Regions from separate parts of the Homo sapiens genome. Here region 1 is linked to region 2. Evidence: fine-mapped QTL for protein levels in blood plasma. Region 2 holds a variant in brackets. A gene starts in the other region. All regions are shown on their forward strands.

Region 1 (12,357 bases), not on the chromosome of region 2:
CACTGCAGCCTCGAACTCCTGAGTTCAAGAGATCCTCCCACCTCAGCCTCCCAAAGTGCTGGGATTATAGGCATGAGCCACGGTTCCTGGCCTGAGATCTATTAGCTCTAATTTTTTGTTTTTTAAAGGTGGGGTATTGCTCCACTATGATCAGCTATGGTGTGATCATAGCTCACTGCAGCCTCGAACTCCTAGGCAATCAAGTGATCCTCCCACCTCAGCCTCCAAGTCGCTAGGACAATAGGCCTGTGCCACCGTGCCTGGCTAATTCTTTCTTTTTTTTTTGTAGAGACAGGGGTCTTGCTTCGTTGCCCAGGCTGGTCTCAAACTCCTGGCTTCAAGCCATCTGCCCACCTCAGCCTCCCAAAGTGCTGGGATTATAGGCGTGAGCTGCCATGCCCAGCTAGCTCTAATTCTTTACTAGTCCCACCTATCCTCTATATCTGTATCAAAGAAGCCCTTAAAATATTGACAAGGAAGGAGTGAACCGGGAGAAGCAGGAGGAGATTCTGAGGCAACACTGACAAGTGGGAGTCAGCCCATGATTTCATTAGTGTGTGTGTGTGTGTGTGTATGTTATCATTTTGTGGAAGAGATAGTGGTGAAATTATTTAAAAACATGGTATGGCCAGGCACAGTGGCTCACACCTGTAATCCCAGCACTTTGGGAGGCCAAGGTGGGAGGATCCCTTGAGCTCAGGAGTTTTAAGACCAGCCTGGGCAACATAGTGAGACCTCGTCTCTACAAAAAATGAACAAAATTAGCTGGGTGTGGTGGTGTGTGCCTGTAGTCCTACCTACTCAGGAGGCTGAGGTGGGAGGATTGCTTGAGCCCAGGAGGTTGAGGTTGCAGTGAGCTGAGATTGCGCCACTCACTTCAGCCTGGGTGACAGAGCAAGACCCTATCTCAAAAAAGGAGCAAATAAAAACAACAAAAATACATGGTATTAGTAATTTTCTGGATGACACTGAGGAGGACTCATTGTTAGAACATAGTGATAACTCACTTTTAAAGCAATAAATTGCTTCTGTGGTTCTGTGATAAAGAAAAGTCAGGATTCCAGGGATTAAAATGAGTTTTCATGCTTAAGGAATGAAGATTTTGTAGATTTTAGAGATAATTCATCTTTAGGATTTTTTTTTTTTTACATCTCTAGTAGAAGTCATTGTTTCCCTGTTGGATACTGGCATATGAATATTCAGTAAATATGAATTTTTACTGTATTCACGAATAAGACATTAGAAATCCTTCATATTTATAATTTGATTTTATGCTTTGTATCTATTTTTATTGAAATATTTACGTGTCTCAGCAGTAGGCTTTTGGAAAGTTACCTTTATCTCCTCTCCCATTTGGGCTCTTGGGGGTTTATGCCTTTATTTTATTTTTAAAATTAATTTATTTACTTTGAGACAGGGTCTCTCACTTTTTAGCCCAGGCTATATGGCTCCCAGGCTCAAGTGATCCTCCCACCTCAGCCTCCTGAGTAGCTGGGACCATAGGCACATGCCACTACACCAGCTACTTTTTTTTATTTTTTGTACAGACGAGGTCTCATTGTGTTGCCCAGGTTGGTCTCAAACTCCTGAGCTGAAGTGAGCGTCTTGGCCTCCCAAAGTGTTGGGATTACAGGCGTAAGCCACTGCGCCTGGCCTTGCTTTATGCCTTTACACGCATACATGCACCAAAAAAATTTACTGTAGTTTTAGTCGGGGCTCAGTGAGAAGTGAAAATAAAGGCATGTAATTAATTTTCCATCCCTACCCTGAACTCCGATTTGTTTTTAAATTTAATGGTGTTGATCTTTAATGATTTACGTTTTATGGTTTTATGACTTGTTTAAGAAACTCTTTTTGGCCAAGCAGAGTGGCTCATGGCTGTAATCCCAGCACTTTGGGAGGCTGAGGCGGGTGGAGCGCTTGAGCCCAGGAGTTCAAGACCAGCTTGGGCAATATAGTGAGACCTGGTCTCCATTTTATTTTAAAAAAAAGTTATTTTATACCTCGAAGTTATAACCACATTCACCTATATTTTCTTCTACGTATATCTTAAACATTATGTTTTGAATCCATCTCATATGATGAAGAATTTGAAAGGCAATGTCAAGATAGAGGTATTTTAAAAAGGGAAGGGCATTAGAACCTTTAAGAAAAACAAAAAGATGAGTGACGAAGGAAAAGTGCACTACTTTTGTCTGCAGAGAACATTTATATAGTCAAAATAATGTAATATGTGATAATACATATTATGTAATAGTAATCCACAATAATATAAACTGTAATTATGATCTAAATATGGTAATATAATCATGATCTAAATATTATGGTATGACTATATTTAGAGGATGCAGTGACAGGAGAGGAGAGTTGGCAAGAGAGTTAGATCTTCACTTTTTATAGTAGGAAGTCATCTGGTAATGTTTAAAATAGGTAAATCAAGAAACAGAGGTATAGGCAAAGTACTTAGACATATGGCACTAAGAAATAGCATAGGAGTTAAAGTTGTAGGAAATTATGTTATTCAGAATAAACCTTTTGGTACTTTTGGATATATTTTTTAACTGTGAGTGTGTATTATGTGATATTTTTTGAATTATGCATCAAGAGAATAAGAGAGAAAAGAGAAAGAACAGGACAATGTTGTCAAAGATGAAGGCAGACAAGGAGAGTGGCCAGTCATGATCTGATGGAATAAATAATATATTGCATGCTTACTCAGAGCAGGGCTTGAGGCAAATACCAGGCATGCAGGTGTGGCAGGAGAATTTAGTGAAATAGAGAGTTTTGTTTTTTCTGCCTATGTTTTTCTTTTCACTATAGAGTAGGCAAGAGTTTTGGCAGGGCTGGGAGTGATGTCCTGATGTCAAAGGGAGCCTGACGTCAAAGGCCTTTTGTAAATGTCTTACACCAGGGGAAAATGCCGGGCATAGAGGCTCACACCTGTAATCCCAGCAACTTGGAGCCTGAGGCAGGAGGATCCCTTGAGCCCAGGAGTTTGAGGTTACAGTGAGCTATGATCCTACCTTTGCACTCCAGCCTGGACTACAAAGCAAGCCTTAAAAAAAAAAAAAAGTAAACTTGTAAACTTGGGGAAGAGGTTATGCCCTGGAGGGGCTGAGGAGAGGGAGACAATTGTTTAGGACTGCGAAGGGATTAGTGTGTACATCCAGCCAGAGTGGGCACTGGGCTCTAATTTCTGTCTGTGATGGGGCAAGTGACAGGACTGTTGAGTAGATGGCTTCGGGGGTATCTGGGGAGGTCAAGTCCAAGCCCAGAGGCTGTCATATCTGAATTCTTATGTCTCAAATGTGGAGTCTAGGACTTGAAGAGATATACCTGCTGGAACCACAGGGGTCAGAACACTCACTGGCGAGACTGATGTCCAATGATAGGATGGTGTAGGAGGCAGGTAGGAGGCCTCCCTTGGGCCTTGAGGTTTCTGTGACCTTTGCATAACCCTTGGCAGGTGGGATCCCACAAGAGTGCCTGATGTTGAATTTCTCATCAGCACTCTAGTGCAGTAGCTTGGAGTAGGAATTAAGTTCATTTAAGGAACATTTCAAAAGTAGTATTTCTTGCATATCTGAGTTTATAGATTAATTTCACACCTGCTGCCCTAGGACAGGCAGGGGAGAGGCCCTGTCTTCACCTGCTGCAAGAGGAGCAGACAAGCCAATACTTGAGGATGTTAGGATAGGTGGTAAGTGCTGTGGCATACTCAGGCTCCTACAGAAGGAAAAGTTGATGGAGCAGCCACTTCTAGCTTCTGAGGTTCCTACCTTTCTTCTTCTTCTTCTCCTCCTTTTTTTTTCTTTTCCTGAAATGGAGTCTTGCTCTTGTCGCCCAGACTGGAGTGCAATGGCACAATCGATCTCACCTCACTGCAACCTCCGCCTCCTGGGTTCAAGTGATTCTCCTTCCTCAGCCTCCCGAGTAGCTGGGATTACAGGCGCCCGCCACAATGCCCGGCTAATTTTTGTATTTTTAGTAGAGACGGGGTTTCACCATGTTGGCCAGGCTGGTCAGGAACTCCTGACCTCATGATCCGCCTGCCTTGGCCTCCCAAAGTGCTGGGATTACAGGCCTGAGCCACCGCGCCCGGCCTTGAGGTTCCTACCTTTCTTGCCCTTCCCCAGGATCTGTTCCCTTCTTTCTCACATTGTCTGGCCCAATCTGATGGCTTCTACTCTCCCCGCCTGGAGGTGATTTGGGGAATAGAAGGGTCTTCACTCTGGGGAGGAAGAGGTAGAGGAGAGCCATCTGAGGCCTTCCAGGAGAGGAGACTGATTCACACCTGAATCCTGGGGTTCTGAAAACCTGCCCCAGGAGACTTATTCCTTGACTTCAAAGGGTTAAATGGGCTAAAGTAGTCTGGATCCCAGCCAGGAAAGAAAGGAGGAAAAAAAAAGGGAGGAGGTTTTTCCATCTGGAAGGAGGCTGAGTGAGTCCAGGGGCCCAGATAGGAATAGAAGGAGAGCACAACAGCCCCATTAAACAAAGAGGAGAGGTCAAGGCCCGAGCTTCACTGAATAGGGCTGAAGCAAGTCCCCTCGGGTCTTTGCCTCCCAGGGGCTCTCTCAGGGCTGGAACTGTGCTAGGGCAGGTTTCAATATAACTTGTGTTTGTCTGTGTTATAGATGGGCCCAAGCCACAGCTTCCCTCCTAGGGACCCTTCCAAAGAACCACTTGGAGGGTCTCATTGAATAGTTCCCAGGGAAAAGAGAGGAAGCCTCTGGGATATCTGGGGAAAGGTCTGAAGGTCATGGAAAAGATCCGAAGGTCACCCCTGGAGTTAGTGCAGGACAGAATCAGGGTCTCAGAGGTCTGCAGAGCTGTTGGGGGTGTGTGCTCCATGTCCACCACCTCTCCATTGGCAGGATGCCTCAGAAGACTGGGTCCTACCCTGTCCTTCAGCCTCCCTTTAACTGCTCAGGGGTGCAGGCACCTGAGAGGCAAGGAAACTCTTGGGGTAGATGAGAACATAGCATTTTTCAGCCTGAGCTTTCGGCTCAGAGTGTGTGACCCCACCCTGTAGGAACCTTGGCATCTCGGTGGACATAAACACATGGGAACAGGTACTTGGGTGGGAAGACAGAACAGCTTTTTATTCAGTTAGGTATAAATCATATTTACAAGGAAGAGGTGGGGTGTACTGGGGAGCCGTATCAGGTCCAGGGTCCTGATGATTCTCCTTCAAGGGGACAGTCCTGCTGCCTCCTCTCATGCTCCCTGGGAGACTCTCCCTCCTCGGTCTCTCTGGACCTGGCCTGCTGTGGGCAGCTCAGCCATGCAGGGTAGAGCTGGGAATGCAGATGGGGTGGTTAAAGCAGGAGAAAGAGTGTGGCAAGGCCAGCATGGGGTGGCTGCTCCAGGGCCCCTGAGCATAGCCTCCTTCTTGCATCTTGGGTTCAGGCTTCAAGCGCTGGTGAGGCTGGTGGGGTCTCCAGGGCTCCAGGCTGCTCACTGGGCTATGGCCCTTTAGGGGTCTGTGACCGCTCAGTCCTGTGAGGGCAGAAGAGGGGTGTGAGGGGCTGACTGAGGCTCCCCTTTACCCACATCCCTCAGATTCCTCACCTCTTGCAGCCTTTGGAGCCCTTTCCTTTCTTGCCAGTCTTGGAGGCCCCCCTGTCCTTCCTGCAGCCCTGGGCTGGTTTCTGTGGGGATGGTGTCTTGTCCAGATGCTGCATCAGCTGCTGCACCCAGAGCTCCTTTGGGTCTGCACATAGCTCTGCCTGAGAGCGCTTGCGGGGCAAGAACCTGCGGGTGGGGGCTAGTAAGCCTTCTTAGTCTTGCCCACCATGCCCTCCCCACCCCGTCACCAGCCAGTACCCACCCCTTTGTGTCCACTCACAGGATAGCTGGGATGGAGCAGCCTAAGCTTGGTTCCTGCTTCCGGTAGCTGCGGACAACCTTGGCGGGAATCTTCCTTTGGCTGTACTTGAGGCAACAGTCCTGAGCCCCTCCATCACTGCCTGCAGGGTGGGATTCACAGGGAGCCAGGGGCTGCTGGCAAGCTCCTATCCAGGCCTCTTGATCCCCTTAGCCCCATGCAAGGCCCCTCCCTGCCTTGGTACCTTGGGTCCTGGGGATGCCAAAGGCCAGAACCAGGATAAGGAGGCTCAGAGCCAGTGACTGAGCCATGTCTGTGGTAGAGGGTGAGTAAGAGGCCAGAGCTGAGGGTGAGGTGGGCAGCTGCAAGTTGGGGGTCTGTGCGTGGGCTGGGATTGGCCTGCTATTTATGTAGCTAGACACTTTCACTTCCCTTAACTTATCCCCACTCCTTTTCCTTCCTGAAAGCTGGATTTGCTGGCACCCAGCCCCACTTATCTCAAACTAAGTGGACAGTCCTCAGCTGCCAAATTTTATGTCCTCATTAGTTGAATATGTCTGGGCCTGAGCCTTCCTTCTATTCCCAGCTACTGCTTTCATGCAGGCCTCACTGCCTCTCCCCTGGAACACCATGACTGTCTCCTCACTACGCTCCAGGATCCATACCCTTCCCCTCCTTCCAGCAAATCTGATTATTAAATTGTAAGAGTTCTTTTTTTTTTTTTTTTTTTTGAGACAGGGTCTAACTCTGTCACCCAGGCTGGAGTGCAGTGGTTGATCTTGGCTCACTGAAATCTCCGCCTCCTGGGCTCGAGTGATCCTCCTACCTCAACCTCCCCAGGAGCTGGGACTACAGGCAAGCACCACTGCGCCTGGCTGATTTTTCTATTTTTTTTTTGTAGAGACGAGGTTTCACGATGTCTAGCCCAGGCTAGTCTTGAGCTCCTGGGCTCAAATGATCTGCCTGCCTCAGCCTCTTGAGGAGCTGGGACCACAGGCACATGCCACTACGTCCGGCTACTGTTTTCATTTTTCATTTTTATTTTTTCTAGAGATGAGGTCTTGCTATGTTGCCCAGTCTGGTCTTGAACTCCTGGGCTCAAGCGATCCTCCTGCCTTGGCCACCCAAAGTGCTGGAATTATAGGTATGAGCGACTGCACCTGGTCTGTAGCATAACCATTTTGATTCCCCTTTGCTTTCCTTTTCTATATATTTTGTAGTTATTTTCCTAATGGATACCTTGGTGATTATAATTAACATTCTAAACTGATAACAACCTAGTTTGAATAATACCAACTTAGTTTCAATGGTATATAAACATTTTGCTCGTATACATTTTAGTCCCTTCTTTATATTGTTATTGTCACAGATTACATCTTTATACATTGTGTTCCCATTGACATAGATTTATAATTATTGTTTAATGCATTTTCCTTTTAAATTATATAGAAAAAAGTGGGGCTACAAACTAAAAATACAATACTAGCTTTTATCTTTTTTTTTTTTTTTGACACAGGGTCTCGCTTTGTCACCCAGGCTGGAGTGCGGTGGCACAATCTCAGCTCACAGCAGCCTCGACCTCCTGGGCTCAAGTGATCCTTCCACCTCAGTCTCCTGAGTAGTGGGGCCACCATGCCTGGCTAATTTTTGTATTTTTTGTAGACACGAGGTCTCACTATGTTGCCCAGGCTAGTCTCGAACGCCTGACCTCAAGCAATTCACCCGCCTTGGCCTCCCAAAGTAATGGGATTACAAGTGTGAACCAGCATACCTGGCAATGTTGTTACTTTTTTTTTTTTTTTTTTGAGACAGAGTCTCACTCTTTCGCCCAGGCTGGAGTGCAGTGGCGTGATCTTGGCTCACTGCAACCTCCACCCTCCGGGTTCAAGCCATTCTCCTGCCTCAGCCTCCCGAGTAACTGGGATTATGGGCACCTGTCACCACATCCAGCTAATTTTTCTATTTTTTGTAGAGATGGGGTTTCACCATGTTGGCCTGGTTGGTCTCAAACTCCTGACCTCAAATGATCCGCTCACCTTGGCCTCCCAAAGTGCTGGGATTACAGACATGAGCCACTGCGCCCAGCCTGCTATGTTGTTATGTTTATCAGAGATCTTTGTTTCTTTGTGTGGCTGTGAGTTATTATTTTTTGTCCTTTTGTTTCATTCTGAAGGTCTTCCTTTAGCATTTGTTTGTTTGTTTGTTTGTTTTTTCTTTCTCCCGTTAGCTTTTCTTGTGGGCAGGTCTACTATTAATGAACTTCCTAAGTTTTGTTTATCTGGAAATGTCTTATTTCTCCTTAATTCTTGCAGCATAGTTTTGCTGGATATATAGAATTCTTGTTTGACTTTTTTTTTTCTTCAGTCTTTAAATATATCCCCCATTGTCTTTTGGCCTCCCATGGTTTCTGAAATCAGCTGGTAATCTTATTGAGAATCTCTTGTACATAATGAGTTACTTCTCTCTTGCTGCTTTTAAAATCTTTGGGTTTCAACAATTTGACTATAATTTGTCTTGGTGTGGATCTCTGAGTTTATCCTTCTTAGAGTTTGTGAACTTCTTGGGTATGTATATTCATGCTTTTCATCAGATTTCAGATGTTTTGTCATTATTTCTTCAATTTTTTTAATGCCCTGTTCCCTCTCTTCTCCTCCTGAGACTCCTGTGATGAGGTACATTTGATGGTATCCCTGAGGCTCGTTTATTTTTCTTCTCATACTTGATAATTTTAATTGTCTTATCATCAAGAATACTGATCCTTTTTTTTCTGCTTAAATTAGTTGTTGATTGCCCCTAGTGAATTGTACATTTCAGTTATTGTATTTTTGCTTCCAGAATTTCTGCTTGAGTCCTTTTTTTCTTTTTACTAATTTCCATCTCTTTATTGATAGTTTCATTTTGTTCATACACCATTTTTCAGATTTCCCTTAACTCTTTGCCCATGGTTTCCTTCAGCTCTTTGAGCATATTTAAGACAGTTATTTTTTTTTTCCAAAAGGGCCATTGTTTCCCAATTTAATTTGAGGTCATAATAAAACAAGCAACAAAGCAGTATTTGAGATTTCAGCTTCTCACCCTTATCATCAAACCTCCCATCATCAATATTTATTGAGCATTTACAGTAAGACAGTTAAAGTCTTCATCTACTATGTCCAATATCTGGGCTTCCTCAGGGATAGTCTCTGTCAAATTCCTTTCTTCCTGTGAATGGGCCATACTTTCCTATTTCTTTGTATTAGTAATTTTTTGTTGATAACTGGGCATTCTGAATATTACAGTGTGGTATCTCTAGAAATTCAATTTTTTCACTCCTTAGGGATTGCTGATATACACTTGTTGAGAACTCTGCCATCAATTTGTGGTGACTTTTTCAAACGGTTTTTTGCAAAGTGTGTATTCTTTGTTTTGTGGGGTTACTGAAATTTCTGTTTATGACCTGACAAAGGGTTCTCTTCCTTCCCCGCAAAAAGATTCTGTCCCTTTAAATCTTCTGATATATGTGGCTCAGGAAGATCCTGAAGCCCAAGAGGGCTGAAACAAAGCAAGCCTGTCCCTTAGGGAACCAGAAGACAAACCCAAATGCAAAACCCCTCATTTTTGGAGGACAGGGTTCCCCCTGCCCACTCAGTGACCACCCAGCTACTTCAGGAATGTGGGCTGCTATCCCCACTGTGTTGGTTGGTAGCTAGTGCATGCATTATGCTCTCTTCTGAAAGACCAGCAACCTCTCCCTTCATCAAGTACCACCCCCCCTGCTTGTTATAAGTGTCCAATCGGGCTCCAGACTTCTGAAAGAGTCGATTCCAATTGCTCTTTCCACCTCAATAGTTGCTTTGGTGGAGGGACCAACCCCTATAACTTCTTACTCTGCCATTTTGTATGATGTTTTTCTGTAGTTTAATTTTTAACATTTTAAAATCTTTTATCCATTTGGAGTTTATTATGGTATATGATGTGTGAGGGTTATTGGGTCATAACTTAGAATCTATATTTAATACTGGATTGGGACCTTAGAGTTGTAATCCTCACGTCAGAGCTGGAGAATCCATCTGGTTTCCAGAGTGCTAAACTCAGCAGCAAGCTCCTTACATCTTGTTTTTTGAAGGATGGCTTATGACAGGATAGGGAAACCATAGGAAGAGGAGGAAATGAGTGTCAGGAGAGATGTAGTCAGGACAGCCATGGCCAGAGACAGAAATATTGGGTTGCTCTTGGGGAAGGATGGGATGCAGAAGGCATGGGGTTGAAGATGGAGGTACTGTTGGGAGGGGGATAAAGAGGTGGTGTTTCATTCTAAGGTCCACAGAGTAGAGGGGCTGGAATTTGGTGGCCTAGAGGAGAAATAATTGAGCTCTTGAGTCTGAGGTTTTCAGACTCAAGAGACCTTAAGGCTGAGACCTTAAGCAGGGCAGGGAGTGACTCTGTTGGCAAGAAGCTGGTGTTCCTGGAACAAGACTAGGCAAAAACAAGGAGATAAGATTTCTTGGATCTTTTACCTGGTCTAGAGGCAGATCCTGGAACCAGAAAGTTTTAAATTCCCAGCTCCCTGGTTTCCCCACCTGCCTAATGGGAGTGACTAAGAAAGTAGTGAGCAGCCTGTCTCTGAGGAATTCTCAGACAGATAGAATAGCATGGGCTTGGGAGGGGGCATGCAGATAATTCCGAAGTCATATTATATTAGTTTGCTTCCAAACTTGGCTGCACTTCAGAATCACCTGGGTGACTTTTTAAAAACAGAATTAGAAGCAACACGCCAGACCGCCTTAAATAGAATCTCAGAATAGAGCCAACAAATGTGTATTTTTACCAAGTTCTGCAGGTAATTCTAAGCATTTGGTGGGGTGGGGCTGGGAGAGCCACTTGGGCCTATTCTGCTCCCCATCCCACACTCTAGATTGACACAGAGCCGGTGAAAGGGAACAAAGTTGGTCTGGGGAAAGGAAAGCTGGAGTGATGCCCCCTCTACCTCCCCTGGAGGAGGAGACTTTCTCGCCTGGCACAGATTGTAGAAAAAAAGGAGAGATGGCAGGGAAGAGGAGGGGGCTGTACCTTTTTCTTTCCTAAAAGCTTAGGCTTGCTTTCTCTCCAAGATACCTGCCTGTCTCCCTTACCCTTATTCATGCCATGAAAGAAGCTTCTTGTTGTGTCAGATGGTGTGCACAACCCCCTAGGTCCCATCTCTGCCTGGTCTTCCTAGATGCAGGAATCTAGGTTGATTAGGCATCAACCCTAAGCCCCTGCCTGTGAACTTGAGCCTGCAGTGGTAGAGCAGTCTCAGGGAGATGTTACATCCTGGAGATATTGAGGTCTGTCTGCTTGGTGCTGGAGCTTAGAATCAAGGTTAGGAGCCCTAAGGGAAATGAAGGAAGCAGTAGGGGCTTTTCTGGAGGTGGAAACCTGGCTGGACAAAATCCAGCGCAGAAAACAGCTGCCCTGAGAGTGAGGATGGGATAGCGAGTCCCTACCCCGTCTCCAGTCTGTGAGTGGACCTGGTGGCAGGGGTGGTGAGAGGGAGGCACTGAAGCAGGGTAGAAGAGAGTGAGGAGCTCGGATGATGAGAGAGCCATTACCCTTTTCTGGGACCCCAAGTCTTCTGAGCCATTCCTCTGCCCTCAGCTGCTGGCCTGGGTTTATTGTACCCCACAGCCCCACTTGAACTGTAAGCTGGGTTTGGGGATTTGGAGCCTGCAGCTTTGACCCAAGCTCCTCTCAGTCCTCAGACCAGGCTGGATGCAGAGCTTGGGGAAGGGGACACAAAGACTCAGATGGCTGCACATCCGAGATGTGGGTCTCCACCTACAGTTCCAGTCCTCTGGGTGAAGATGTTGGCTTGGTGAGCTCCTGAGAGAAACTGGCTACTTTGTGACAACCTCTGGGATGGCCTAGGTGCAGAGGAGTGCTTCACTGGTACCTGGGGTGAAGGATAAAGGAGGTACACATGGCTGATTTCAGCCCTACCCGTGATGATGAATTCACCAGACTGAGATCCTGGGAGGGGGAGAGGAAGTGTGCTTATTCACACCTACCTCAGCAGGCCCACTACCTCTCTAGGACAGGCACCTGGAGTAGACATCCTAGGTGTGGGTGTTGCAAGAGTCTGGAAATCCCCTAATTGGAAAGGGCCACATTCCCTTCAGTCTCAGGCCCGTTTGCTCTTGCCTGGTGGGGTTTCCAGGGCAGCAGATGCTCCCAGCTTGGCAGGCAAGAGCCAGGGAGGGGTATGGCGGGAATTTCAGCTCAAGGGCTAGGCAAGTCCTGGAATAGGATTGGGGTGGGCTGGGGCCCATGGGCCTGTATATCCAACAAAGGTCAAAGGGCCTGGGTGCGTTGCTGCTCCTGGGTTCTCAGCGGAGCATTGAGCCCTCTAGAAATAAGATGCCCTGTGGACTGTGCAGCCGTTACTGAAGGAGCTACTCAGTTTCTCGGAGTCATAAGTGTGCAAAATGTGTGTGTCTAGTGTAGTTGCATGCATTCATCAATGTGTAGCTCTACCAAGGGTTAGGGTTAGAGTTAGGATTATGCTTAGA
Region 2 (12,357 bases):
TAAAACCCCACACATGGCTGGGCATGATGGCTCACGCCTGTAATCCCAGCACTTTGGGAAGCCAAGGCAGGTGGATCTCTTGAGGTCAGGAATTCAAGACCAGCCTGGCCAACATGGTAAAACCCTGTCTCTACTAAAAATACAAAAAATTAACCGGAAGTGGTGGCGAGCGCCTGCAATCCCAGCTGCTCGGGAGGCTGAGGCAGGAGAATTGCTTGAATCTGGGAAGCAGAGGTTACAGTGATCTGATATCACGCCACTGGACTCCAGCCTAGGTGACAGAGTGAGACTGTCTCAAAAAAATAAAAAATAAACATAAATAAAAATAAAATCCTGCACGTTTCCGCCATGCCTTTGGTTCACAAAGTGCTTTGACTCTCATTATCAGTGTGAAAAGGAAACGTGGGGGCCTCAGAGCCAGCCTGAGGTCCAGGCCTCACATCACCACTTTCTGGCTGTGTGACTATGGGCAGGTGACTTCACTCACCTCTCTGAGCCTCAATTTCCTCACCTGTAAAATGGCAACAGTAACACCATCTCCCCTCTTCTGAGCTCAGTGTCCAGCCAGCCTGTGGCCACTTTCCTCCTGGTCCTCTTCCCTCCCCACTGGCCTCCTCCTTTCTCCAGAGGGCACCACCTTTGCCCTGCGCCAGACAGCCAGGCCCTTGCCAGGCCAAGAGTTGAGTCAGACTTCAGTTCACCAACATGCTGCCGGGGTGGACGAGCCTGGACAGCCAGAGGAATCTTGTCCCGGCTCCCATACGGCAGCCAGTGCTTTGTCAGGCCCAGGGCGGGTGGGTGAGAGGGAGACAGGGAGGGGAGGAGGGGAGCCCCCGACGGGAAGGCTCTGATTCTGCCAGTGAAGGTTTTTGTTCTCTGGAATGCCAGGCCAGGGCAGTCAGCTCTGCCAACAAGAAGACTGGCCTCCAACAATAATGTTTTTCCCTGGGTTTTCTAGAATGCATCAGCTGCTTTCTAATTTGAACCATCAGGAGAAAGCTCATATGTGCTGAGTCTCAGAACAGCCGTATAAAGAAAACTGCTCCCCAGGCTTAACAGGAGCTGGCCTCTGAGGGACTTTGGCCAAGGGGCCCCTGAACAGGAGGCTGGGAGTGCCTCCCCGGGTACCTTCCCGTCCAGCCCAGGCCCTCGGTTGGCATCCTCCCCGGGGCACACCAGCCACTGTTCTCTCCACCTACACCCAGGAGGGCCGGCTGGGCGCCAGAGCCCATGCGAGGCTCTCGGCACGACCATTGTCACTGTTACTGGGGTTCACGTGGATGATCACGTGCTGCAGGCCAGCAACATGCTGAGTACTTCACATTTCATATCCATCTACCGGAGTCGCACTCCACAGAAGAGAGTGGCAAGACCCGCAGAGAGGAAAGGACCTTGCCCAAAGTCCCCCAGCACTGAAGAGCTGGGCTTCCAGCCCCAGGTCTGCCTTGACAGTTCCATAGCCAGGCCTCACCCCCTGCAAATAAAAGAATTAAGACTCACCACTTCTAGGCCAGGCACAGTGGCTCACACCTGTAATCCCAGCACTTTGGGAGGCTGAGGAGGGCGGATCACCTGAGGTCAGGAGTTCAAGACCAGCCTGGCCAAAATGGTGAAATCTTGTCTCTACTAAAAATACAAAAATTAGCCAGGTGTGGTGGCACACCTCCGTAATCCCAGCTACTCGGGAGACTGAGGCAGGAGAATCACTTGAACCTGGGAGGCAGAGGTTGCAGTGAGCCGAGATAGCACCATTGCACTCCAGCATGGGTGACAGAGAGAGACTCCGTCTCAAAAAAATAAATAAATAAAAAGACTCACCACTTTGTACCTACTAGGTGTGGCTAGAATCAAAAAATCACATAAGGCCAGGCATGGTAGTATATGCCTGTAATCCCAGCACTTTGAGAGGCTGAGGTAGGAGGATGTCTTGAGGCCAGGAGTTCAAGACCAGCCTGGGCAATGTAGCAAGACCCCCTTCTCTAAAAAATAAATAAATAAATAAAAGAAATAATAAAGTCACATAATGCGAGAGATAGCCAGGATGTGGAGAAACCAGAACCTCTGTCCACTGCTGGTGGGAATGCGGAATGGCACAGCCACTGCGGAACAGCCTGTTAGTTCCTCAAGTAATTAGACAGAGTTGTCACGTGACCCAGCAATCTCACTCCTCCATATGCACCTGAGAGAAAGGAAAACGCAGGCACACACAAAGACAGGAACATGAATGTTCATAGCAGCATTATTCATAACAGGCAAAATGTGGAAACTACCCACATGGAAAAACAAAATGTAGAATATCCATACAGTGGAATGTTATTCAGCCATAAAATGGAATGAAGTCCCACCCATGCTACAACATGCATGAACTTTGCAAACACTATGCGGGTGAAAGAAGCCAGTCCCTACAGGCTACATGTGGTAATTCCATATAGATATTCCGTGTATGAAATATCTAGGATAGGAAAATTCATAGAAACAAAGATCAGTGGTTTCTCGTGGTTGGGGGTGAGCATGGGGGGTGATAGCCAAAGGGTATAGGTTCTTTCTTTCTTTCTTTCTTTTTCTTTCTTTCTTCTTTCTTCCTTCCTTCCTCTCTCTCTTTCTTTCCCTCTCTCTCTTCTTTCTTTCTCTCTCCTTTTCTTTCTTTCTCTCTCCTTTTCTTTCTTTCTCTCTTTCCCTCTCTCTCTTTCTTCTTTCTTTCTTCCTTCCATCCTTCCTTCCTCTCTTTCTTTCCCTCTCTCTCTTTCTTTCCACCCTCTCTCTTTCTTTCTTTCCTTCCTTCCTCTTTCTTTCTCTCTTTCCCTCTCTCTCTCCTTTCTTTCTTTTTCTTTCTTTCTTTTTCTTTCTTTCTTCTTCTTTCTCTCTCTCTCTCCTTCCTCCCTCCCTTCCTTCCTTCCTTTCTTCCTTCCTTCCTTTCTCTCTCTCTCTCTGTCTGTCTGTCTGTCTCTCTCTCTCTCTCTCTTTTTTTCTTCCTTCCAGGGCCTTATTCTGTCACCCAGGCTGAGTGCAGTGGTGCAATCATAGCTCACTGCAGCCTCCACCTCCTAGCCTTAAGACATCCTCCCACCTCAGCCTCCTGAGTAGCTGGAGTCACAGGAACACACCACCATGCCAGGCTAGTTTGTTTTTTTTTTTCTTTTTGTAGAGATGGGGGTCTTGCTATGTTGCCCAGGCTGGTCTTGAACTCCTGGGCTAAAGCCATCCTCTTCCTTAGCCTCCCAAAGTGTTGGGAGTACAGGCGTGAGCACCTGGCCCAAGCTCTCTTTTTGCAGTGGTAAGAATGTTCTAAAATTGACTGTGGTTGCAAATATCAGTGAATACACTAAAAACCACTGAATTCTGCACTTTAAATGGGTGAATTTTACAGTGTGTGAATTCTCTCTCAATAAAGCTGTTGAAAAAAGAAAAGTGTGAAGGTGCAGGCTTTGAGAAACTCACAGGTCGGGGAGGATAGAGAAGTAAACGATTCCTGTCATAATACAGCAGGCACAGGCGGGGCACAGGGAGACGACCTGGTGAGCGGGGCTGGCTGAGGACAGGTGTCTGAGCTCAGGAGTGAAAATAAGTTTTCCACAAGAGGCCATGTTAGTACAGTGCTATGGGAAGAGAGGGGGACACCTCTCAGCCTAGGGAGCTTGGGTGAAGGGAGAGGCAATCCAGGAAGGCTTCCTAGAGCAGGTGCCATTGGGCTGAGTCCTGAAAAATGAGTCAGGCAAGAAAGCAAGAGGCAGAAGAAGATGTCACAGGTGAAAAGGGTGGAAGCCTACTCAGGGAATGTTCTGGGTGGAGGTTGGGGTGTGACAGGGAGGAGAATCCTGCCTGGTGTCCTGGGAAGGACAGTCCCCCGACATCTACCTCTACCCCCTGTGTTTCTTCAAGCAAGCCCTTGCCCCTCTCTGGGCCTGGGTTCTAACAAAAGCCCTTCCATCTCTGAGGCTGAGAGTCTCTGGGGCTCAGGTTGGAGTGATGAGGGCAAAGGGAGGGCAGACGGGGAATCAGGAGGAGGGGATGTCGTCGGGTGTCAGGGCCTGGAGACAGAGGGACCGAGGCTTCTATGGCCTTCGTGGCCACAGAGCCGGACCTGCTGCCCAGGGGCCACGTCCCCGCTACCCTCAGGCCTCCCCAGGAAACAGAAGTGCCTGGGGAGGAATCGAAACAGAAACACAGGTGTCTCTCCCTGGGCAGATTCCAAGAAAAAAAAAGAAAGTGGCCTCTAGAGAAGAGAACTTGTGAGCTTTGAAGGGAGGAAGGAAACCCAAGCCGCGAGAGGAAGCGAGAGAGGAGGGTAGGTGTGAGAGAGAAGCAGGTGCCCCAGGCGCAGGCCACACCGGCCACGGCCCACGGCCATGCCACCAGTCAGGCTTGTGGAACCCAACCGCAGGCAGCTTTGAGGGGGCACAAGAAGTGTGTGGAGGAGGAGCGGGCCCTGATGACGGTCCCCAGTGGTGCCACCAGCTTCCTGTCTCCTCGGCCCTGATACTCTCTTGGTCTCCCCAAGTCACCGTGGCCCTGGCACTAATGAGTCCTGAATTTGGAGTCATGGGGTCTCCTTTTGGCTTTTTGGAGAGTTCAGCCTTTTGGCCCCACCATGTGTGATTTGCAGTCTCTGAGCCTCAGTTTGCTTGTCTGTAAAATGGGGACCGCCAGTGCTGCTCTCCCTCTGCCGTCGGGGAGCACAGAGTGTGCACTGGAGGAAGACAAAGCAATGTGCATGAAAACACCTGGCCATGCAGACCTAAGGGATGGGAGGATCGTGGGCATGATGATATTAACCTCTTGTATGGTGATGGTATCCATTTCTTGGATGGTGAGGATATCAACCTCTTCGTGCAGTGTTTTCACCTTTCTGAAGCATCTTCTCATTACTTACCTCCTCTGAGCCTCACAGTGCCGAGTGCAAAAGGCCAGGTGGGTGTCCTTATACCCATTTGACAGGAGATAAAACTGAGGCTTGGAGAAGCAGCATCACGGAGCAGGCAGGAGAACCATGGGGATGTTGGGCTCCTGGGGCCTGGACATCACCACCCACCTCTTTGCTTTCCTCTGGCCCCGTTGGCTGCCAAGCTGGGGTAATTGGGGTCCTTGTGCTTTTCACACAGGTAGAGACCACCCCGACACCCCAAGCCAAACTTCCTGGGTCACATGGAGGGTGTTCAGGCTGGAGCAGGAAAGATTCACAAACACACCATCAAATATTTGAAAGCCTTTTAGGTAGAAGCTGAATTAGGCTAGTTCCGGGTGGTCCCAAGGGTAGAACAAGGACAAATGCCCTAGGAGGTTATAGGAACATGGAGAAGGGATTCAGTTCGTTATGGAAAAGAGCATTCTGAATACACTGAGCCAGTTACAGATAGAACATGTTGCCTGCAGGGTGGTGAGCTCCCCATCACTGGGGGCATTCAAGTGCAGGCCTGACAACCAGGTGGCAGAAGAGGTAGTGCAGAGGGGAGCAGATTCTATGAGGGAGGTTACCCTAGCACCGGGCTTCTCAACCTCAGCATGATCCACACTCTTGGAGGTGGGGGCTGCCCTTGGCATTGTAGGATATTCAGCCGCATCCCTGCTGTCTACAGCCAGTTGCCAGCAGCATCCCCAACTGTGACAGCCAAAAATGTTTCCAGACATTGTCAAGTGTGCCCTGGGGCAGAATTGCCCCCAGTTAAGAAGTTCTGGCTTAGATGACCTTTAAGACCCCCTGAGATCCTAGGATTCTGTCATTCTACACGAGGAACCACAAGAGTCACTGTCATTTTTTGAGCCCGTGTGGACTGCATGCTGCTAAGAGTCTTGGACACATCATGCCCTTTAATGTTGTAACTGCCTGGGTTGGTACCTCTTCTTACATAACCTCTCCCACTCCTCGGCTGTGTTTATTCCAACTCCTTACATCCCGGATGGCGTCCCTCCCACCCGCTGCAGGCCCTCCCTTCATCCTTCCCCCACCCATCCCATTCACACCCCATCTTTTATTATATTCCAGCACCTCTGTGCTCCCCTAAATAGCACCGTGTCTAGGGTCTCCATGTCCGTCTTCCCACTGGACGCTGGGCTCTTGGAGGGCCAGTTGGCTCTTGTTCAACTCTGGATCCCCACATAGTAGGGATTCACCACACATGTACTAAGGGACTGAGGACTGAGGCAGACACATCGGCTCAGGGGTATCCGTGAACCAGCCCTGGTCAGCTGGGGCTGCCTGACTCTGCAGCCCTCGAGTCCCCTGAATGCACCCCTGGGAAGCAGCCCGCTGTCCGGCTCCTCCGTGCACAGGTCTCTAACCCAGAGAGAGGCCCACAGTGTCCAC[C/T]GGAAGGACGAGGGGCAGGACGTGTGGGCAGGAGCCTCCCCTGTAGGAGGAAATGACCTGGATAATGAGGGTGACCACAGCCTCGTTCATGAAACCCCAGATACCCGACCTGGTCTCTGTCTTCAAAGCCAGAAGGAGGACGCTTTAGGGGAAACAAGGGAAGTCCCACGGGGAAATGGTCAGGCGGAGGGCGTTCCTGTTAACTGAATATTCTGATTAAGTGGGAGCCATAGCATGGGCTGGCAGGAAGCCCACCGCCCTTTGTGGGGCTGTCTTTGTGGGGTTTCTTTCGTAGAGCGATGAAGATTTGAACTATGTTGGCAGTTTCCAAGCTTTCCGGGTGTTTTTATTTTGGTTTTAGCAGAAGAAGTCCCTACTTCTTAAAGGAAAATCTCATGTAATATCCCATATGTAAAACCCCATCCCAAGGCCAGGAGTGGTGGCTCATGCCTGTAATCCCAGCACTTTGGGAGGCCAAGGCAGGTGGATCACTTGAGTCCAAGAGTTCGAGACCAGCCATGGGTAGCATGGTGAGACTCCATCTATACAAAAAGTAAATACAAAAATTAGCAGAGTGCAGTGTGTGTGTCTATAGTCCCAGCTACTCCGGAGGCTCAGGTGGGAGGATTGTCTGAGCCCAGGAGGCAGAGTTTGCTGAGATTGTGGCACTGCACTCCAGCCTGGGTGACAGAGCAATTCTCTGTCCCAAAGAACAATAAAAAAAAAACCCTTCCCAAAGTGGCTCTGAGTCACCTGCCAGCCCCACAGAGATCCTCAGAGCCTGGTTAGAAACTCCCAAGGTTTCTCTGAGGTCCTCCTGGCTGCCGTGATCTGCGATTCTGTAACTGACCCCACCTAATGGTGAGGCGCATCCCAGCTTTACAGGATGCCCTCAGGGCTCTGCAAGGTTGCCGGTGAGAGCTGTGACTCGGGCTATCCTCGAACATGCTGAGATGGAAAATTCTGGTCATCCGAGTATTCTGTTTATTTCTGTGGGTCCCTTGGTAAACAGGAATTTACAGTACCCAGCAAAGATAAACTTATGGAACTCATTACCCCAGAAAGGGTTACAGACCAGGGACATGAGCACACCCGGTCAGACCCTGCGGTGTTTGGATGACAGAGCCCTGAATGGAGACACCCCAGGTCTGGTCCCAGCCTGACAGCAGTGGCCACAGCCTCAGGAGAGCCACTGTCACAAGGCCGGAGCTCTGAAAAGACTCACAAGCATTTTCTCATCGCTTTGAGGTTTACCATGCATTCCTTTCCTTTTTTTACTGATTGAGGAACTGAGGCTCAGAGAGGTGGAGTCCCTTGCAAGTGGCTGAAGCCAGAGTTCTCAGCTTCACTATCAGGGGCTCCCATGCCATCCACTGAGTGACCAGAGCAAAGCTGGGCTTGCCCTTTTAACCTGGAAACTGGGGCTTTTCGATGGGAGCCCACCTTCCCGTGAACATGCGTGGGTTGAGTGACTGCCCTCAGGTCAGGATTGAATTAGACTCTGATAATAGAAAGATGGGCCAGGCACAGTGGCTCATGCCTATAACCCCCAGCCCTTGGAAGGCCAAGGCAAGAGGATCGCTTGAGACTAGGAGTTTGAGACCAGCCTGGGCAACAGAGCGAGACCCTGTCTCTAAAATAATTAGCCAGGCATGTGGCACATGCCTGTAGTCCCGATTGCTGGGGAAGCTGAGATGGGAGGATTGCTTGAGCCCAGGAGTTTGAGATTATAGTGAGCTATGATCATTGTACCACTGCACTCCAGCCTGGGTGACAGAGTAAGACTCTATCTCAAAAAGAAAAGAAAAATGGATAAAGACATAGCCCTTAGGACAAAGGGCCAAGAGTTAACTTTACCAGGCAGCTGGAGAGGGGGCAAAAGGAGGTTTTGCTGAGAAGGAAGTGTCCGGGCTGATCTGGAGGCTGCGTAATCAAGTAACAGATGGAGGCAGCAGGGAACAGCATTTCCTCATAGGGAACAGCCTGAGCTAAGTGGAAGAGGCATGAGGAAACATCCCAAAAGATTCCTCCAGCTAACTGCCAAGAGTACTGGTGGGTCATTACAGAATGATGAAGAAGGGAGGGCTGGTGTCCCAGGATCAATATCCCAGAGAAGGAATAAGGGTTCTCCTTCCAGAGCCCGATTTCTAGGTTTCGGGAGCCCTGAGGCTGGCCACGGGAAACGTTTCTGATATTTGTGAGAATCTCTGAATCAGTTCTTGTTGGAGCTGGCAGAGCCCTTTAGGGGTTGTATTAGTTTCCTGTGGTTGCCATAATAAATTACCACAAACTGGGTGGCTTGAAATAACAGACATTTATTCACTCACAGTTCTGGAGGCCAGAAGTCTGAAATCAAGGTGCCAGCAGGGCCACACCCATTTCAAGGCTGTAGGGAAGAATCCTTGCCTGCTTCTTCTAGGTGGTTTCTGGAGGGTGGCTCCAGGTGCCCCGGAGCTTATGGCTGCCTCACCCCAGCCTCTGTCTCTGTCCTCACCTGGCCTTCTCCCCTGCGTGCCTCGAGCCTCTCTCCCTTTCTCTTGTAAGGACACTTGTCATTGTCTTATAAGGACACTTCTGTGGGTTGAGGACCTACATAGATATTCCAGGATGATCTCATCTAGAGATCCTTAACTTAGTTACATCTACAAAGACCCTTTTTCCAAATAAGGTCACATTCACGGGTTCCAGGAGGTAGGTGTATCTTGGAGGCTGGGGAGGGGACATCATTGAACCTACCCGGGGATCAGCCGTTCAACAACCTTATTCTGCCGTTGAGGATGCTGAGGCTCAGGTGGACAAAGGCTCTTGCCCAAAGCCAGCCAGTCAGTGACACAGGGATCCTCAGGTGCCCCAAGAGTCTTGTGCCAACACCACCATTGTCATCGTAGCACAATACGTGCATTGTTTCATACAGGCCAGACATTGTTCTGTGCCGAACCTCTCTCAACTCACAGTAAGCCTGCTCCTCAGAGGAGGAAGACAGGCACAGAGAGCTCTAGGAACTTGCCCAAGGTCACACAGTCAATTTGTGGGTTTATGGTGTCCCCCTGGAAACCCATGTGTCCAGAACAGCCTTGACACATAGGAGTCGGTATATGTTTGTGAGCGCCAGCGTGGCTCTGAGGCCTGGCGGGGAAGAACGGAAGTCTATAGTCCTGCTGGAGAGGCGGACACTCACAGGATCACTTCCTAGACTGTCGGGGAGAGGCCAGCCTGGGAGTGCCTGGGGGATTTTCCCAAGAAAGAGACCTGAGTTGAGTCACATCTAAGGAAGAATAAAACCAGTGAGAGGGAATGCCTGGGATGGGAAGGACTTCCCAGGAAAGCTGGAATGAGCATAGCATGTCCCAGGGACAAAATCAGTTCAGTTTTGCTGGAGCAGAAAGCAGGAAGCCAGGGGAAAATGAGGCTGAGGTTCAAACTTGGTCCTGAAGGTACTAGGGAGCCACGGTTGGTTTAAGCAGGAGCTATGTCAGCCGCTTTGTGTTTTAGGAAGATTGCTCTGGGAGGCCAGGGGTAGGTGAGGCCTCTGCAGGGACCCCTCTGAAGGTGCACCCTGAGTTTATCTCCAACCCCTTGCTTGGCAGGTGTGGGATGAAGCTGCAATTTAGGGCAGGAGGAGCAGTGCCTGGTCAACTCCCCTTCTGTTCCAGAACCCCAAGTCACAGGGGAAACCTGGGGGGATGGAGGAGAAAGGTCTGCAGTCACAATCTAGCCAGCGCCTGCTAGGCAGGTGGCGGCCTGTGAGAAAGCTGCTGAAGATGTTAAAGGAGGCCTGGCGCAGTGGCTCACACCTGTAATCCCAGCACTTTTGGAGGCCAAGGCGGGCAGATCACTTGAGGCCAGGAGTTCGAGACCAGCCTGGCCAACATGGTGAAACGCCATCTCTACTTTAATAAAAAATACAAAAATTAGCCTGGCATGATGGTGCATGCCTGTAGTCCCAGCTACTCGTGAGGCTGAGGCAAGAGAATCACTTGAATCTGGGAGGTGGAGGCTGCAGTGAGCGGAGATAGCACCACTGCCCTCCAGCCTGGGAGACAGAGTGAGATTCTGTCTCAAAAAAAAAAGAAAAAAAGAAAAAAGATGTTAAAGGAGGTGGTTGGGTCAGCTTTTCCCAGTGTCCATGGAATGTGGTCCTGAAAGAGCTGCTGGCAAAGAATCCACAGACATGCTGCATACTCTGTCCCCACCTGACTGCCCTTAAGGCTCTGATAAGTCCTGCAACAAACACTTCTTTTTCATTTTGTTTAACCCACTCTTTCCCAAACTTTTCTGATGCAAAGTCAGGTTTTCTTCTTTGAATGCTGGTGCACTGCCTTGTGAATGGAGAGCAACACAACTCACTTTGGGCAATGCTAGTACAGAGGAAGTACTTTGGGCAATGCTAGTATAGACCAGGAGTGAGGAGGCTTGGGTAGGGAGGTATGTTCTTTGCGAGAGCACCCACCACTTCTCTGGGCCTCCATTTCCTCCTTGCTGCCTCCTATTCAATAGTTATCTTATGTATTACAGTAACCACATAGTGTCTCTGTAGAAGGGATCTTGTGTTTCCACCCTGGGGTTCAGTACCTGGCACAGAGCCAGATGCTGAATGAATACATGAATGAAAGTCTAAAATAAGAACTGCCCGGCCTGGGCAACATAGTGAGACCCCATCTCTACAAATTAAAAAAAAAAAATAGCTGTGTGATACCCGCCTGTGATCTCAGCTACTGGGGAGGCTAAGGCAGAAGGATTGCTTGAGCCTGGAAGATCAAGACTGCAGTGAGTTGTGGCTGGGTGTGGTGGCTCATGCCCGTAATCTCAGCACTTTAGGGGGGCGAAGTGGGCAAATCACTTGAGGTCGGAAGTTTGAGACCAGCCTGGCCAACATGGTGAAACCTCATCTCTACTAAAGATACAAAATTAGCTGGGCGTGTTGGCACATGCCTGTAATCCCAGCTACTTGGGAAGCTGAGGCAGGAGAACTGCTTGAACCTGGGAGGTGGAGGTTGCAGTGAGCCGAAATCGAGCCACTGCATTCCAGCCTGGGCGCCAGGAGTGAGACTCCATCTCAAAAAAAAAAAAAGGAGAGAGACTGCAGTGAGTTGTGATGGTGCCACTGTATTCCAGCCTGGGCATCAGAGTAAGATCCTGCTCCAAAAAAAAAAAAAACAGAACTGCCTCTCCAGTAGAGCTATTATGGAATTAAGTCAACGAATGCCGATGAGATGAGATGAGTTTTATGTTAGTAAATGCCAAAGCCCTATTCACCTGTAAGGGATGACTTTTTAAATATGTGCTGTACTTCAAGGCGCCTTACTCCCCATGTTCCCCGGTGCCTAAAATTCCAGCATTAGTCACTCGTTTGCCGTAGGGCACTGAAGGCCCCAATTAAAATGTAAATGTGTGACCTAGTGGTGTTGCCATGGAGCCACCAGCACCCCTGACAGGGCCTCATGTCATCACTGTTGGCAATTTGTTCACCAGATTAGTCCAGCAGAAAATTGCTGTCGATGAAGGGACTCATCTACAGAGAACCAGAGAACTCCTATGCAGAAGAGAGAAAGTGGAGCAGGAAATGATGCTGGCCGGCATTCGGGGGGGCCTCAGGGCCCATGCATTGACCGCTGTCACCCCACCACCCTCCACTACACGCCTGGGCCGTCACCTACCTCCAAGGGCACCCGGGTCAGGGGCTTAGAGGGGCCCGCCAAGGCCATTCCCTAAGGCTGTGAGGGAAACTCTGGCCCATTTTGCCAAGGGCAACCAGCCATCCAGGGGGTCCGAGCTACACCCTGCAGGAAGCCCACGCAGCACAGCCCTCCAGCTGGGGTCAGGTCCGCCTGGCCAGCTGCGGGTTCGGGACAGGACGCCCCTTCTGGGAACACAGGAAGGAAGGGAGGGCGCTGCTGACCACTGTCAGGATGAGTCCCTTCCTCCCTGCCCCTTTCCTCACCCCTTACCTCCATGGCCCCACCCTCTTCCCCACCAGGTGGCAGCCCCTCCGAGGACCAGAGGGTGAGATGGGAGGCCCCTATCCAAGGGGTCTTACCCTAAAGGGTTTGGGAGAA

Which allele goes with the higher level. Positions count from the first base shown, and alleles are read on the strand shown. Strength reflects both the effect of a copy and how common the allele is.
In carriers of allele T in region 2, the plasma level of the protein whose gene starts at base 6,211 in region 1 tends to be lower than with C alone (weak association).

Evidence for each region. A credible set is the group of variants that fine-mapping cannot tell apart. PIP is the chance, under the fine-mapping model, that this variant and not a neighbour inherited with it causes the effect. Protein levels are from antibody-based Olink assays in UK Biobank. Linkage for the fine-mapping came from a reference panel and not from the study's own genotypes, which makes the PIPs less certain.
Region 1: CCL21 starts here. The variant in region 2 is the best candidate, but not a certain one, in a credible set for the plasma level of the CCL21 protein (UK Biobank, PIP 0.84).

What each region holds. Positions count from the first base shown.
Region 1 is chr9:34,703,926-34,716,282 of GRCh38, forward strand. It overlaps CCL21 (C-C motif chemokine ligand 21), which reads right to left and starts at 6,211. Exons shown (of 4, transcript NM_002989.4): 1 at 6,075-6,211; 2 at 5,852-5,972; 3 at 5,575-5,757; 4 at 5,080-5,502. The coding sequence starts at 6,141. The coding sequence ends at 5,469. It also overlaps a transcript of PHF24 not described here.
Region 2 is chr22:30,217,140-30,229,496 of GRCh38, forward strand. No RefSeq gene overlaps it. Among named protein-coding and RNA genes, the nearest start is that of LIF-AS1, 16 kb to the right of the region's middle. RefSeq lists a cis regulatory region at 1-50 and enhancers at 4,132-4,762, 5,743-6,244, 6,245-6,744, 9,559-10,355, 11,647-12,357. The variant C/T (reference allele first, on the strand shown) is at 6,302.